2 separate regions of the Homo sapiens genome follow, and region 2 is linked to region 1. The links come from fine-mapping of genetic effects on plasma protein levels. A gene starts in region 1. The other region holds a variant in brackets. All regions are shown on one strand. Distances are between the middles of the regions.

Region 1 (8,521 bases):
AAATCAATGTGCAAAAATCACAAGCATTCCTATACACTAACAGTAGACAAGCAGAGAGTCAAATCATGAATGAACTCTCATTCACAACTGCTGCAAAGAGAATAAAATATCTAGGAATACAGCTAACAAGGAAAGTGAAGGATCTCTTCAAAGAGAACTAAAAACCACTGCTCAATGAAATCTGAGAGGACACAAACAAATGGAAAAACATGCCATGCTCATGGATAGGAAGAATCAATATCATGAAAATGGCCAAAATGTCCAAAGTGATTTATAGATTTAATGCTATTCCCATCAAGCTACCGTTGACTTTCTTCACAGAACTAGAAAAAAACTACTTTAAAAGTAATGTGGAACCAAAAAAGAGCCCATATAGCCAAGACAATCCTAAGCAAAAACAACAAAGATGGAGGCATCACGTTACCCTACTTCAAACTATACTACAAGTTTACAGTAACCAAAGCAGCATGGTACTGGTACAAAAACAGACACATAGACCAATGGAATAGAATAGAGATCTCAGAAATAAGACTGCACATCTACAACCATCTGATCTTTGACAAATCTGGCAAAAACAAGTAATGGGGAAAGGATTCCTTATTTAGTAAGTGGTGCTGGGAGAACTGGCTAGCCATATGCAGAAAATTGAAACTTAACCCCTTCCTCACATCTTACACAAAATTAACTCAAGATGAATTAAAGACTTAAATGAAAACCCAAAAGTAAAAAAAAAAACAAAAAACCCTAGAAGAAAATCCAGGCAATACCATTCATAACATAGGCATAGGCAAAGATTTCATGACAAAAATGTCAAAAGCAAAAATTGACAAATGGGATCTAATTAAACTAAAGAGCTTCTGCACTGCAAAAGGAGCTATCATTAGAGCAAACAGGTGACCTACAGAGTGGGAGAAAATTTTTGCAATCTATCTATCTGACAAAGGTCTAATATCCAGAATCTTCAAGGAACTTAAACAAATTTATAAGAAAAAAAATGAACAACCCCATTAAAAAGTGGGCAAAGCCCATTAACAAACACTTCTCAAAAGAAGACAAATATGTGGTCAAGAAACATAAAAAAAGCTCAACCTCACTGATCATTACAGGAATGCACATCAAAACCACAATGAGATATGATCTCACACCTGTCAGAATGGTGATTATTAAAAAGTCAAGAAACAACAGATGCTGGCGAGGCTATGGAGAAATAGGAGTGCTTTTCCACTGTTGGTGAGAATGTAAATTAGTTCCACCATTGTGGAAGACATTGTAGCAATTCCTTAAAGACCTAGAACCAGAAACAGCATTTGACACAGCAATCTCATTACTGGGTATATACACCCAAAAGAATATAAATCATTCTATTATAAAGATACATGCTTATGTATGTTAATTGCAGCACTATTCACAATAACAAAGATGTGGAATCAACCCAAATGCCCATCAATGATAGACTGGATAAAGAAAATGTGGTACATATACACCATGGAATACTACGCCACCATAAAAAGGAACAAGATCCTGTCCTTTGTAGGGACATTTAGCTGCCTTTAATTGAGACTTTGATTGTACCATTCAGATTCTGGCACTTTGGTCCAATTATAGGAGTATTCTGGATGCCAGCATCTTTGCTAGCTGTGCACCCACAAAGCCTTTGACTTAAAAGACATTTGTGAATCAAGCTCCCAGGACCCAACATTGTATTCAAATTCTACAAATGACTCAGCCCCATTATAACACCACAGAGTCACAAAAATACAGCCCACATCAACCCTAGTGGGTATCCATGTGGGAAGGATACCCTAGTCCGACACTGCCCTAGCTCAAGACCATGCCATTAAAGATGACATGCCCCCTGCCTCCCAACCAACTATGGGCAGTGCCAACTACACTAGCACATGGAATGTCTTGCCATTCATAGGAGACCAGAGGCTCTTGGTTTTCCAGTAGCTGGTTACACTGCTGACTTCTGTTTTAAAAAAGCAAGACCCACAACACTGGAGTAACTTTCCAGACTTTACAGACACCTATAAAACTCGAAGTTCTGCTCTCTGTGATTGTAATTCCACTCTATACCTGGCTTAGCCCTTATGAGACCAAGTCCAATACCTCCCTAATGCTTCTAAGATTCAGGTTCCTGCTAATCCCACCCACTTCTCCTGCCTAAAGGGTAACCTGACTGAAGTATTCCACCCTGTGTGCTCTCCTAGGAGTAAAAGGAGCATCTGCTGGTCTCCGACTGTCAAACCATTTATTCCCTTCCATCCTCCTCGCCTTCCCTTTCTCATTGTCAGTATCCCTACTCCCACCCCTATCTTTTCCGTCCTAACAGCATCTTCTCCTCTTGCCCTCTAAAAGACTACGTAAGTAAAATTCAAACCCACTGCCCCAGCTTCTCTGATATTTATACAGACATCCAAAATACAAACACATTTGACTGAAGTAGGCTCTTCTGCACTGACTATCCATAACTCATCACCCTGCTTCCACATATCCCACATCACACATTTACCCAACTGATAATTGCCCCAGAGATGAAAAATACTGAGAAATGAAAACCACTTCCAAACGGCCTTTTCTTCTGTATTGGGGTGCCCCCTCATGGCAAGTGGCAACTGCACTCGTATTTCCTCAATACATACCACAGATGGGCTACCCAATGAACAACTGCATATTCTCACCATATGCCCAACAAAAGCCACTGTCTTCCTCCAGTCCCATTCTTTAGTAATTTCCCTTTACCTAAATCAAGGTACAATTTTCCAGTCTAATGGTAATGCCACAAAACTATATTGTGTCCCAACCAACAAGGGTGTTTATCCCCTCTCCTTTGCCCTTCCATTACTCTGAAACTGGAAGCCACGAGATGCATTCTGGCCTCTCTTGGCATTCCTATTTATATAAATGTTAATTATTCTTTCCCTACCCAGCCAAATGTCATTGATGTGCCACATTTGTACCTATAATACTGGGACTCACCACTGCTCTGGGACTTGCTGCGATGGCCACAAGGACCATTGCTTTAGCCCAACAGTCAAAAATAATTGATGCTACCCTACAAATGTCCAAAACTCTAGTATATCATATTTCTAAGTTACAGCAAATATTAGTCCTGCTAAACCAGGGAGCTTTGGCAAAAATGTTTTTTGACAGTAAATTTGTCCTTGATTATATATTAACTAGTCAAAGAGGTGTTTGTAACATTATTAGAGCTTCTTGTTGTAGGTGGGTTAACACCACCAATCAAGAGGTCATTCTAACAGAAAGCCTGGATCAGAAAACCATCACCCTAAAAAAACATGCCTTACATATTTAACACACTCTGAAATCCAGTCAAAATATGACTAAAGGCCCTTGCCATGACTGATGTATTCTCCTGGCCAACGCCAAACAAATGGGAGCCTGGTTACGAGTCAGCCTTCAGGGACTTGTCACATTTCTACTTGGTTTCTTCCTTGTTATTGTCATAATAAAATGTTTTCTATGCTGTTTAGTGCAACTTAGGCCCTATTCTGTAGAAGTCTCCTCTACTATTCAGGCCACTCAAACACCCCAAATAATTGAGTTCAAAATCGACATCAAGATATAAAGGAATCAGTGACTAAATATATTTCATATATGGTATTTTTATTGATTATTGTGCTGTCTTGACCTAGTATGGAGGCCTTGGCTAGAGGCTGGTCAGTTTCCTCTCTTGAGCAGCTGATTAAATCCACACCCCAACCACTTCCCTTATCAGGTTCTCACACTCTGGGGCCACTATGTACCCACTCTAATCACCACAGGGCCAGACATCAGACAATTAAGGACAGCGCCCATGCCCCAAAGCCCGCCAAAATTATGCAAATTATTCAAAATTATTCAACCTAGCTAACCCCACCCTTTTTGCTGTACATAAGCTGCCCATTCCCCCTCCAGCCTGTGGTACCCAGTCCTCAGGTGCAACCCCCTGCGTGGTCCTCTGTGGCAGCCTTCTCTCATTCAGAGCTGTAAGTAACAAAGACTTCTGCCTTTCATCTAGCTGAGCATTGAAGTGTTTTATCCGACTGCCAAAAGAATCTTTAAATCTTGTAAAATACAGTCCTACCTACATCTTAATTACTATTCAATGAATGAAAGCTGCAAAGCTTAAAAAACCTTTATAGTTTTTCTAAACCTTTTATATTTATCAAGCAGATCTCTGTAAATCTGTAAATCTGAAAAGGATAATATAAATTACCTTTTTTTTTTTTGAGACAGAGTCTCACTTGGCAGCCTAGGCTGGAGTGCAGTGGCACCATCTCTGCTAACTGCAACCTCTGCCTCCCAGGTTCAAGTGATTCTCCTGCCTCAGCCTCCCGAGTAGCTGGGATTACAGGCACATGCCACCACACCTGGCTAATTACTGTATTTTTAGTAGAGGGGATTTCACCATGTTTGCAAGGCTGGTCTCGAACTACTGACCTCAGGTGATCTGCCCTCCTCAGCCTCCCAAAGTGCTGGGACTAGAGGCGTGAGCCACTGTGCCCAGCCAATATAAATTACCATTTAAAATTATTCCATGACTAATGTTCAATTTGACGTTAATTCCCCTAAACAAATAATGCAATTGATAGACTTGGTTAATTAAGTTCCTTTAAATATTATATATTATATCAATTACAAATTTAGTCTACCTGAATCTCTCAAGCATTTCAAATGCCTGACACATTAGTATCTTTTATACATCTTGCAAGTTTATAAAAGGAGGGAGGGGGCTCTAATAATTAAAGCAATTCCAGTAAAAGTAATAAACCAAATTTATGCAGTAGTAAGTTATGTTCTCTTAAACATTCAAACACTGTGTATAGACTGAAGAAAATGCTCTTGTACTTTAAAATTGAAATTATATGGTTCATATATCTGATTTTCTAATATATCAGGTTATATTAAATGCTTCAAGTAACTTAACAAACAATCTTTCATAGGTTATCTCAAGGATTAAATAATTAAATTTCTAAAGTTAATACAAATGTGTTAATATTGTGGATTTGACTAACTTCAACATTCTTATAGTTATTTCTCTCTTCTCCCAGTATTGTAAATCCACTTATGCAAATAAAGAGAATAGATAGATGTATGATCTGATTGGGCTGAGGATACTGTATCAGAGAATCAAGGCCAGGGTTGAAGTGTCAGTTAAAGAATTTGAGAGAGGGTCAGGGACCTAATTAGGTACCACACATGCCCAGGGTGCCTCTACACGACCCGAAAGTCAATCTGCTGGGCATCTCCTTGAGGTAACAGAGCTTTCCAAATTCACACTGTTTCATGCAGTCTAGTATATCATGTGTACCCTTACCTAGTTTTATTTATTTATTTATTTATTTATTTATTTATTTATTTATTTATTTATTTTTGAGACAATTTCTCTGTCACCAGGCTGGAGTGCAGTGGTGTGATCTCAGCTCACTGTAACCTCTGCCTCCTGGGTTCAAGCAATTCTCTTGCCTCAGTCTCCGGAGTACCTGGGACTACAGGCATGTGCCACCACGCCCGTCTAATTTTTGTATTTTTAGTAGAGACAGGGTTTCACCATGTTGGCCAGGATTGTCTCAATCTCTTGACCTCTGATGATCCGCCTACCTCGGCCTCCCAAAGTGCTGGGATTATAGGTGTGAGGCACCGTGCCCGGCCCCCTTACCCAATTTTTAAAGTTACCTCTTTTATAACTTTTTTGTTTTTTTGAGACAGAATCTCACTCTGTCACCCAGGCTGGAGTGTAGTGGCATGATCTCTGCTCACTGCAACCTCTGCCTCCCGGTTCAAGCAATTCTCGTGTCTCAGCCTCCCGAGTAGCTGGGATTACAAGTATGCGCTACCACACCCGGCCAATTTTTGTATTTTTAGTAGAGATGGGGTTTCGCCATGTTGGCCAGGCTGGTCCTGAACTCCTAACCTCAAGCGATCCACCAGCTTGGACCTTCCAAAGTACTGGGATTAAAGGCATGAGCCACCATGCCCAGCTTCTTTTATAACTTATAACTGTGTAATTTGATAGTTGAAATTCCCTCTATAGGATATTATTCACTACTCGACTGAATTCAATCTCTTTATTGCCTGATTGGAGTCAACTTGCTTTTTACATGTTTTATATCCAGTTCAATATCAAGAATCCTTTTGTCATTTTATTGACCATTCCCTACGTGATTAACACTATCTACTGAATACTGTATCTCAGAATATTACCTACATTTGCATCAAGCTCATGATCTATAGCTCACCTACATCCACCATTCTATTTTTGAAATTTGGGATAGCATGTGCCAGGATACAGTTGTTCTGCCTGAGTCTTCACTGCACCTCGAGTTATTTTGAGGTTCATCCATCTTATCTGAACTTTCTCCGTGCTCTGGATTTTATTCCTCTCCAAGAGACACAAACTCATTTAGAGCATGTAGATCTTCCCTTGGGATGTTTCTGCCTATTTTATTCCTTGTTTCTATCATGCCAACATTTGTTCTAATCTTTCTATTTGTTCTAATCTTTTTTTTTTTTCAAAAGAAAAGGAAAAAAACAGGTATTTTATGGCACCACTGGTCAGTGTAGGGCGGGTGGGTGGCACATGGCATTAGATGTGCTAGTTGGGCAGAGCTGTGCTGTTAATTTTCTGAAAGTGGTAACAAAATACATAAAATAAAACAGTGCAATGCCAGGACAGGCCAGCATGCGATAGGTGAGTTCTTCCCTCCGAAGCCTTCTTTCCAGGCTGTTTCATGTGTCTTTCTTTAGTGTGTCCTTCCTGTCTAATTAGGTTTCTCTCATTGCCCTTGTCCTAATGTTTTACAATTATCTAAGGTGGAATAGCACAGTGGAGAGAAGCAAAAATGTTGGAGTGAGACAGACTTAGGCAGAGGTGGCAATATTGTAAAAATAATGATGCTTAAGCTGTAAGACCATTCATTGCTTGATTTACTTCCAAGATCCCAGAAGGGCACAAGAAATGTGTTCACACAATCATATGTTTTATATAAAATTTGCAAAAGATATTTAACCACAATCAGTCAACCCCATTATCATTTTACTCTGACTGTACGGCATCATATTTCCTGTATCAGGTGGTATTGGAGGGGCTGTGGGCATTTTTGAGACCCAAATGGGGAAAGTTGAGTTGAGAATAATTTTAGTTTGGCTTTAGTGGGTCATATTTATGTGGGTATCAGTCATTTCTGTATATTGATAATTTATTGCTAGCCATTCAGGGTAGCATCCACTATGCCAAAACAAATATGCAGGGCCAGAAGTCATATTGAAAAGTGAAAGTGTGCTTCCTAATGGCTCCCAGGTTCAGAAATTTGTAGGTTATTGAAGAGAAACAGATGGTGAAATGCACAGAGACAGAGCTAATCGAGGGAAAATAATTTCAATCATCCAGTGTGTAAAGCTGCAGGCAGAGAATTTGGTTTTAGAATTTGACCAGAAAACCTAGTTAAGACAGGTTCTCTCAGGAATGTATCTGATAATGTCTTACGTACGATTAAAACCACATCATATGTTACAAAATTTTTTTGATGAAAATAGTACAAAATTAAAGAATCCTGTGTATTAAGACACAAACCTATAGCAGTACTTCAAATGTGTGTGAAGTTTTATGAATCCCAGTATTAATAAGAACAAACAAAAATTTTAATCAACCATGCTTGAAATAAGACTGAAATATCTTTCTATTCTCTCTACAGAAAATAATATAAAATTTTTGCTATATGAAGAGATAATCCAGAATTATGAAATTAAAATATAGATAAAAGCTCTTAGAGGATTGTGTCTGGCAGTGGCTGAATATGAAATATTGTTTTTTAGATTTTGTGATATTTTTGATATTTAACTTTGTAAAATATTTGATTTATTATAAATCATTTTCTTGTTCTAAATAGATATTCACTTTTGTCACTAATTTTATTATTAATTTTGTATTCTTTTTGTGGTAAAATTAAATTTACTACTTTAAACATTTTAAGGTATACAGGTCTGTGGCATTAAGTACATTGACGTTGCTGTGCAACCCCCATCGCGCATCATCTCCAGAACTTTTTCATCTTTCCAAACTGAAACTCCATATTCATTAAACAATAACTCCCCACTCCTTCCTCCCCCGAGCTCTGGCAGCAATTACTCTATTTTCTAGCTCTATAAATTTGACTATTCTAGTTATCCCATATAAGTGGAATCACACAGTATTTGTCCCTTTGTATATGGCTTATTTCACTTAGCATAGTGTCTTCAATCTTCCTCCATATTGTAGCATGTATCATTTCTTTTTAAGGCTGAATAATATTCCCTTGTATATACAGTAGTCCCCCTTATCTGTGAGGATACGTTACAAGACAATACCTGAAACCATGGCTAGTACCGAACCCTATAAACACTATGTTTTTTTCCTTATACAAACACATCTATGATAAAGTTTAAATTATAAATTAGGAATAGGAAGAGATTAACAACAATAACTAATAATAAAATAGAACAACTATAACAATATATCATAATAAAAGTTATGTGAATG
Region 2 (8,521 bases), 150 kb after region 1:
TACTACCCACAAGAATGTCTTATCACTTGATAGCTTGTGGAGATTGTTGACTTTATGGAGCTGATACTATATGGGGTTTCGATTTCTTTATTTTCTTATTCCTAAGGTTATCCTAAGGTTAGTCTTACATAATGCAATCTCCCAAAGAGGAATTTGAGACTCAAAAGGGTTAAAGGACTTTCTCAGGTGACCAAGGTTTCACACCAAGATGAGGACTCTCAGACCAAAATTGAAAGGATAACTTCAATAAATCTCTTCCCCAGTCACCTCTCCAATGATAGCTTTCGGAAACTAGAGCCAAACATTTCTTTGTCCTATATTGTCAGATAAGAACACATTGCTAAAACCCAATTTCTACATTTTTGTTCTTTTGTTTAATTTTATACAGTTTTCTAATCGAAATTTATCTACACCCTATTTTGTAGTGTTTCATATCTTATTTGTGCATATTACAAAAGTAGGTAAAGTGTGAAAGAGAAAAAGGAAGCATCAAGACTATTTGAAAGGAAATACACTTGTATAAACATCAGATCAGTGTTGAAAAGTCCAGATAATTCATGCCAAAGTAATTCGGCTGTTAAAGAATTTAGTAGTTCCTTGGCCTAGAATGAATAAGTCAATGTCATTCTATTGCTGTCAACTCTTTGAAATATAACCACAGAGCGATATTAGGGGCATGACGGCATTCTGTCATCAGCTCTTGTAAGGTTTATCTATTCCTTTCTGTCCTCTAGAAAAGGAAGATTTGTTCCTTTTTTTTTTTTTTTTTTTTTTGAGACAGAGTCTCACTCTGTTGCCCAATCTGGAGTATAGTGGCACAATCTCAGCTCACCACAACCCCCGCCTCCCGGGTTCAAGTGATTCTCCTGCTTCAGCCTCCTGAGTAGCTGGGACTACAGGCATGGACCACCACACCTGGCTAATTTTTGTATTTTTAGTAGAGACGGAGTTTCACCACGTTGGCTTTGAACTCCTGACCTCAGGTGATCCACCTGCCTTGGCCTCTAAACGTGCTGTGGTTACAGGTGTGAGCCACCATCCCCCTGGCCGGACAGTTTGTTCTATGAAAAGCAGTACCCATATCCCCATCTCACCACCGAGGAAGGTGTGATTTACCCTCATTCCAAGAAATTCTGACCTGGTTGCCACCATTTCACTACTGAAAGCTTGCTGCACTAGCCCTATGTGCCTAGCAAAACCTTGCACTCTTGCCAAACATATAATATTTTATCCCTTACAGCCTCCATTGCCAACTCCATTCACTCTTCTTTATTATTGCCATCAGCATACTAACATGTTCTGGAATTTCTTCTCATTAGCAGGAAACTTTCTTCCTGAATTTACATTTTCCATTTGCTACCCACCCATGCTCTCTGGAATTCCTTGGGTTCTTCTTTCTATACTCAACTGTATTATGTATTAGTTAGGGTTCTCCAAAACCATGTATACGTATTGAGGGAGAAAATGAGATTTATTATTAAAAATGGCTCACTTCATTATGAAGCCTGACAAGTCCCAAGATATTCAGAGTGAGTAGGCAAGCTGGAGGCTGGAGACCCAGGAGAGCTGATGGTGTAGTTTCAGTCCAGAGCCCAGCAGGCTCAAGACCCCAGGTAAAGCCATTGTTTCAGTTTGAATCCTAGAGTAGGAAAAAGCCGATGCCCTATCCCAAAGACAATCAGGCAGAAGGAAGTTTCCCTTACTTGGAAGAGGGTCAGCTTTTTTTTTTTTTCTATTCAGGCTTTCACTGATTAGATAAGGCCCAGCTCCTTAGGGAGGCAGTCCGCCTTAGTCCATCTACTGGTTGAAATGTTAATGTCCTCCAAAAACACCCTCATGTAAACATCCAGAATACTGTTCTACCAAATATCCGAGCACCTCATGGCCCAAATTGACACATACAATTAATCATCACACCAACCTTTAAATTTGGGGGTTTGGGGCCTATAATCTCTCCTCTCTCTACACTCTCCTCCTAGGCCCTTCCATCAGTTCTTATGGAAGTAATCTACCTAGCTTAGACATCCATTCCAGAACTGTCCAAGTGCTAAGCATATATGTTACTTAAATTTTTGACTAGGTACACTTTAAAAACTAAAAAGGAAAGTGAAATTATTCTTAATGATATATATTATTTAACCTAATACATCAAAAATATCATTTCAACATTAGTCAATAAAAAAAAAAAAATTAATGCACTCATGCTTGAAATCCCAGCACTTTGGGAGGCCGAGGCAGGCGGATTGCCTGAGCTCAGGAGTTCGAAACCAGCCTGGGCAACATGGCGAAACCCCGTCTCTATTAAAAATACAAAAAGTTAGCTGGGCATGGTGGTGGGTGCCTGTAATCCCAGCTACGCGGGAGGCTGAGGCAGGAGAATCGCTTGAACCCGGGAGATGAAGGTTGCAGTGAGCTGAGATCATGCCACTGCACTCCAGCCTGGGTGACAGAGTGAGACTCTGTCTCAAAAAAAATAAAATAAATAAAAATTAATGAGTGTTTCAGTTATCAATTTATTGTCTTTCACGTCTAATTTTACCCTGCATTACCAGCTCTGTGATAATGAAGCTTTAAGCATTTCTTTTTTGCAGCAAGCATAATGTTAAGCTTTCTTCAGTAGAAGGTCATTGCTGGAGAAAGGAACTTCTCTTCCTGGTTCCTGAATGCTGTGTTTTTTGTTTTATTCTTGTTCCTGCTGGGCTGCTTTCAGCAGCCACATGTGGCCGTGTATAGAGACATCCAGGCACTCCGGCCCAGCAGCACACTCAAGAGTATGCAGTCTCTCAGTAAGCTGACAACCCTAGCCCTAACCCAGTGACCACCTCACTGCCCCTCCCAAAACAAACCCCACATACTCCAGGCCTCATGCCACCCTATTGGCAAGCAGATGCCCCAACTCCCTCTGCATACCTGCCCACCAGCCCTAGTCTGCCTGCACCCCAAAGAGTGTTTCCCATGGCCTCCTGACATGGACACTGTCCACTCTAGGCTATGCATCTGTCAGCCAGAGTTGTTCCCAATGCTTTGAGTCCCTCTGCATACCTGTAGTCTTGCACACCAGTCTTAGCCCACCTGTACCCTGTTTCTCGCTTGTCTAGTAACTGTGGACCAGCTCAGACCTGGACAACCCAGCAAACTTCT[CTG/G]TCATCCACTGGGTTGCAACCGTATCTTCTCCAGTGATCTGAATCCCTTTGGAACGGAGGCTGGCATCCAAGTTTGTCCCTCATTAGAAACTTCCTTAGCCTCGGGATATTGTTTAGAGTTATCTTTTACATCTTTATAGTTGCCCCATTATACTTAATAATTCTTTACAGTAAACTTTCCCTGTTCAAATTACTGTGTGATTTGTCTCCTGATTGGATCTTAACTGATACTATCATTTATCTTTTACCTTCTTTGTTCTTACAAAGAGTTCCAAATCTGGTGTACATTTTATTCTGACAGCACATCTCAATTCAGGGTAGCCACATTACAAGAGCTCAATAGCCATATGAGGCTAGTGGCTATTATGCTGGCGGCACAGCTCTAGATCTACTGAATTAGATCCAATGACTTCAACTTAAATTGTTCACATGGAATTATACAGTTTTTCCCTGTCCCAACTTCCCTGTCACATTTCTATCTCATCCAATGGTACCACCATCCACCAGATGCACAAACCAGAAACTTCATAGTCACATTAATTTCTGATTTTCTCTTTTTCTCTTCACCTCTAAGTTTTGTCAGTTTTAACTCCTAAGCAATCAGTTAATTTCACAGACACAAAAAAATACTCCACTATACTATAAGCCTAAAACAAAATTCAAAAGATGTATAATTTTAAAACAATCTGTATGCCCTTTCTTCCTAATCAAATTTTTTCTGCTTCTAAAAACGTATCAGGCTGGGCACGGTGGCTCATGCCTGTAATCCCAGCACTTTGGGAGGCTGAGGTGGGTGAATCACTTGAGCCTGGGCATTTGAGAACAGCCTAGGCAACATGGTGAAACCCTGTCTCCAAAAAAAAAAAAAAAATACAAAAATTAGTTGGGTGTGATGGCACAATCCTGTGGCCCCAGCTACTCAATGAGGTGCAAGGATCGCTTGAGCCCAGGAGATGGAGGCTTCAGTAAGCAGTGATCTCACCAGTGCACTCCAGCCTGGGCAACAAAGCGAGCAAGATCCTGTCTCAAAAAAAAAAAAGAGTGGCCAGGCGTGGTGGCTCACATCTGTAATCTCAGCACTTTGGGATGCCCAGGCAAGTGGATTACCCAAGGTCAGGCATTCGAGACCAGCCTGGCCAACAAGGTGAAACCCCATCTCTACTAAAAATACAAAAATTAGCTGGGCGTGCTGGTACATGCCTGTAGTCCCAGTTACTCGGGAGGCTGAGGCAGGAGAATAGTTTGAACCCAGGAGGCGGAGGTTGCAGTAAGCTGAGATTGCACCACTGCACTCCAGACTGGATGACAGAACAAGACTCTGTCTCAAAAAAAACAAAACAAAAAAACAAACAAAAAAACCCACCAAAAATGTATAAACAATTTGTGTAATAAGAATATGGCGAAACAGCCATGTCCATACACTATTGGTAGAAATGTAGAATATATGATCTTCTGGAAAAAAATTGGTAATTTAAATCAAGAATTTTAAGCGTATTCATAACTTTAGATCTTATTGATAGACACGCTGCCTGAGAAAATATTAAGAGATTCTGTCAAAGATTATTCAAACGGATGTTAATTACAGTGTATTTATAACAGAAAAAAGCTCTAGAAACAACAGAAGTGATAATGATAAGAAAAGGGTTAAAACAACTTATGTATATCAAAATGATATAATTTTTGAAAGACATTAAATGCCATATTTCCAAACTACTTATTAAAGTGTATATATATATAGATTATAAAATAGTATCTACACAGAAATTTTAATAAGCAATATAGTATATATGCCTAGAAAAAAAGATTGTAAAGAAATATATCAAAAAAGCTGGGGGCAGTGGCTCACACCTGTAATCTCAGCACTTTGGGAGGCCAAGGCAGGCGGATCACCTGAGGTCTGGAGTTCGAGACCAACCTGGCCAACATGAAGAAATTCCATCTCTACTAAAAATACAAGTTAGTGGACATGGTGGTGCATGCCTGTAGTCCCAGCTACACAGGAGGCTGAGGCAGGAGAATCGCTTGAACCTGGAGGCGGAGGTTGCAGTGAGTCGAGATCGCACCACTGCACTCCAGCCTGGGCAACAGAGTGCAACACTGCCTCAAAAATTAATAACAATAATAATTAAAGAAAGAAAGAATGGGCCAGGTGCAGCTCATGCCTGTAATCGCAGCACTTTGGGAGGCCAAGGAGTGTGGATCACGAGATCAGGAGATCGAGACCATCCTGGCTAACATGGTGAAACGTGTCTCTACTAAAATACAAAAAAATTAGCTGGGCGTGGTGGCAGGTGTCTGTAGTCCCAGCTACTCGGGAGGCTGAGGCAGGAGAATGGCGTGAACCCAGGAGGCAGAGCTTGCAGTGAGCCTAGATTGCACCACTGCACTCCAGCCTGGGCGACAGAGCAAGACTCCATCTCAAAAACAAAAACAAAAACAAAAACAAAACAAAACAAAAGACAGAATAAACTAACAAAAGCAAAGTACTTGCAATGACCTGCAGAACCCTATGTGACCCCCTTCAGCCGTGCTGCTTTCTGTTCATTAATCATGCCACGCTGTCTTCTGCTCTTGGCCTTTCTGCCTGGAGCACCTTCCCCCTAAATATCTGCAAGACCCACTCCTTCACCTCTTTCAAGCATTCTCTCAGTTTTTGACTGTCTGCTTTGGTCTGTGTAAACTCTGAAAATAACACTTTCAACTGAAACACAAAATCATAGTTGAGACTTAGATAGTTGAGAGTTTACATTATCAATTAAACTTGATAATTACAAAGCACTGCATCCTTTCATTTTTTTAAATTTAATAGCACACTGCCTTCTTTGCCTTTGCCAACTTTCTGAGTTTTAAATATGCACCTGCTAAATATTTCACAGTTCCTCTATTTTAACCATTACTTGCATTTTAACCAAGTATCATAAAGAGTGAAAAAGTACGACGCATGCCCTTGGAATATTTTTATTGTCTTTGTGACATGTATTTGACCATTCTTAACCCTCGAAGATTTCAAATGCAAGCCCTTCTTTGTGACTATAATTAGTTCAGGTTCAAGATCCCTAGGCATTTGGCCAGGAGATTATTCTAAATCAAATTTGCTTAATTAAATTAATAGTATATTTGTGGAGCACCTATCACATCCAAGAAGCAGTGCTACAAGAAGACGAAAAGTGTTCTTCTAGGTATATCTTGGCCATGCTAACAGTGACAGTGCTTTACAATAATTTTTAGTGTATGGCTACAAACCCTTGCCTATTTTTACATTTCAGGAAGTTTTATTTCATTCAGCAAATGCTTCTTTCACACCTCCTATGTCACAGAAGTATGTATTCATGAATGGAAATCCAAGGTGACTTTTTTTTCTGGGCCCTGAAAAGAGCACGAGAGAAAAGCATGCATAAAAGTAACATGGTATTTGAATACAGAAACCATACCATGAAAAGCTAAAGCCTGTGACTCACCTCTTGCAGCTTCATAGTAATCTACTGATGCGAGTCACTTTTCCTTCACTGCAAAGCATTAACCATCTCTTTTCATTCACTGGTTCTTACCCTCCAGATATTTCCAGGAATTTGACCTAGAGAGAAAGGTGGTGGATCCTGTTTATTCTGCTGCATTTTCTTATATAGGCTGTGTCATAAATTTTCATTTATAGTCTAGAAATAAATGCTCCTGTCATTAGGGGGTTAAAAAAAGATTCCCCATTTCCACAATCAATCATGAAAATGTTCATCTGATCGGTTCCTCATAAGAAATGTAGATTTCTTTTCCTTTCCTTCCTTCCTTCCTTCCATTCTTCCTACCTTCCTTCCTTCCTTTCCTCCCTCCCTCCCTTCCTCTTTTTTCTTTCATTATTTTGAGGCAGGGTCTTGCTCTGTCACCCAGGTTGGAGTGCAGTGACACAATCATGGCTTGCTGCTGCCTCAACCTCCCAAGCTCAGCTTCCTCCCACCTCAGCTTCCTGAGGAGCTGAGACTACAGGTGCACACTACCGTGTCTAACTAATTTTGTATTTTTGGTAGAAATAAGGTGTTGATATGTTGCCCAGTCTGGTCTCAAACTCCTGGGCTCAAGTGATCCTCCTGCCTTGGCCTCCAAAAGTGCTGGGATTACAGGCATGAGCCACTGTGCCTGGCCAAGAAATAAAAATTTCATTGGAAAGTAGCTCTAATATTTATTTGACCCATGAAGAAACTACACGGAAATGCAGACTGCATATAATTTTTATTGACTGTTTGTCATGCATTGGCTGCTCAGAGGAGCCATAGTGGGTGCACAGTCATCTAAGGATATCTATCTCCTCGTTCGGCTTCATCACTTATTTCCTGAACCACTACTTCCCTGCCTGCAACCATTCCTTCTTCTAAGCTACTTTCATGCAGCTAACAAAATTATTCCCTACAATAAGCAATCTCATGTGTGTTTTGGCGGGTGGGGTGTGGAGAGGAGGACAAGTCCTTCGTTGCCTATAGAATAAAATCTCAAACTCTGCTATCTGCTTCTCTGCCTCCCTCCCTTTCTCTATTCCTTTTTCCTTCCTTCCTTCTTAAGTCTAAAAGACATTAGGTCTTATAAGGAGGAGAGAGACGGCATCAGCCCACAGAAAGCAAGAGAGTGAACAGGGTGGGGAAACCACCTATTCAGGTGGCAGCACATGAAGATGGCCGCAGCCCAGGTGGATGAGAGTCCATGGGGGTAAGGAGGACACCTGCATGTCATGGAGGTAGGGGAAGTAGGTGGCAACAGTGAAAGAAGACTGGTTACATACAGGAAGATGAACCAAATGAGTACATATATTTCAAATAAGGGAGCCAGGAAAAAATGACAACAATGGAATGGTAGAAAACTAAAACCTTTGGTATTCAAATGAAATTAGAGATATCAGCATGAACTCATGGTGTGTACATATAGAAATAAATACAGTTGATGTGCCGTGTGAATACTGATAGATAGGTAGATAGACAAATAGTATGTACACACATGCATGTATTTCCTAGCTATGGTCACTGCAAAGACATGGAAGCATCAACTTCCCAGATCGTGGTTTCTTTGCTTTTTTTTTTTTTTTTTTTAGATGAAGTTTCACTCTTGTCACCCAGGCTGGAGTGCAATGGCGCGATCTCGGCTCACTGCAACCTCTGCCTCCTGGGTTTAAGTTATTCTCCTGCCTCAGCCTCCCGAAGAGCTGGGATTACAGGCGCCTGCCACCATGCCTGGCTAATTTTTTTTGTATTTTAGTAGAGACAGAGTTTCACCATGTTGGCCAGGCTGGTCTTGAACTCCAAACCTCAGGTAACCCGCCCACCTCGGCCTCCCAAAGTGCTGGGATTACAGACGTGAGCCACTACACCCAGCCCAGATCTTGGTTTCTTTTCTTTTTC

Which allele goes with the higher level. Positions count from the first base shown, and alleles are read on the strand shown. Strength reflects both the effect of a copy and how common the allele is.
In carriers of allele G in region 2, the plasma level of the protein whose gene starts at base 3,922 in region 1 tends to be lower than with CTG alone (weak association).

What was found. A credible set is the group of variants that fine-mapping cannot tell apart. PIP is the posterior inclusion probability: the model's chance that the variant is causal. The UK Biobank Pharma Proteomics Project read protein levels with antibody pairs (Olink). The fine-mapping took linkage between variants from a reference panel, not from the people measured, so its PIPs are less certain.
Region 2: its variant is the best candidate, but not a certain one, in a credible set for the plasma level of the CA1 protein (UK Biobank, PIP 0.80).

Annotation. Positions count from the first base shown.
Region 1 is chr8:85,373,514-85,382,034 of GRCh38, reverse strand. CA1 (carbonic anhydrase 1) reads left to right here and starts at 3,922. Exons shown (of 8, transcript NM_001128831.4): 1 at 3,922-3,989. RefSeq lists a promoter at 3,103-3,894.
Region 2 is chr8:85,228,281-85,236,801 of GRCh38, reverse strand. It overlaps LOC124901969 (a long non-coding RNA gene), which reads right to left. Exons shown (of 4, transcript XR_007060985.1): 3 at 6,602-6,717. LOC105375936 (a long non-coding RNA gene) reads left to right here. Exons shown (of 3, transcript XR_929126.3): 2 at 7,692-7,835. Among named protein-coding and RNA genes, the nearest start is that of RBIS, 12 kb to the right of the region's middle. The variant CTG/G (reference allele first, on the strand shown) is at 3,142.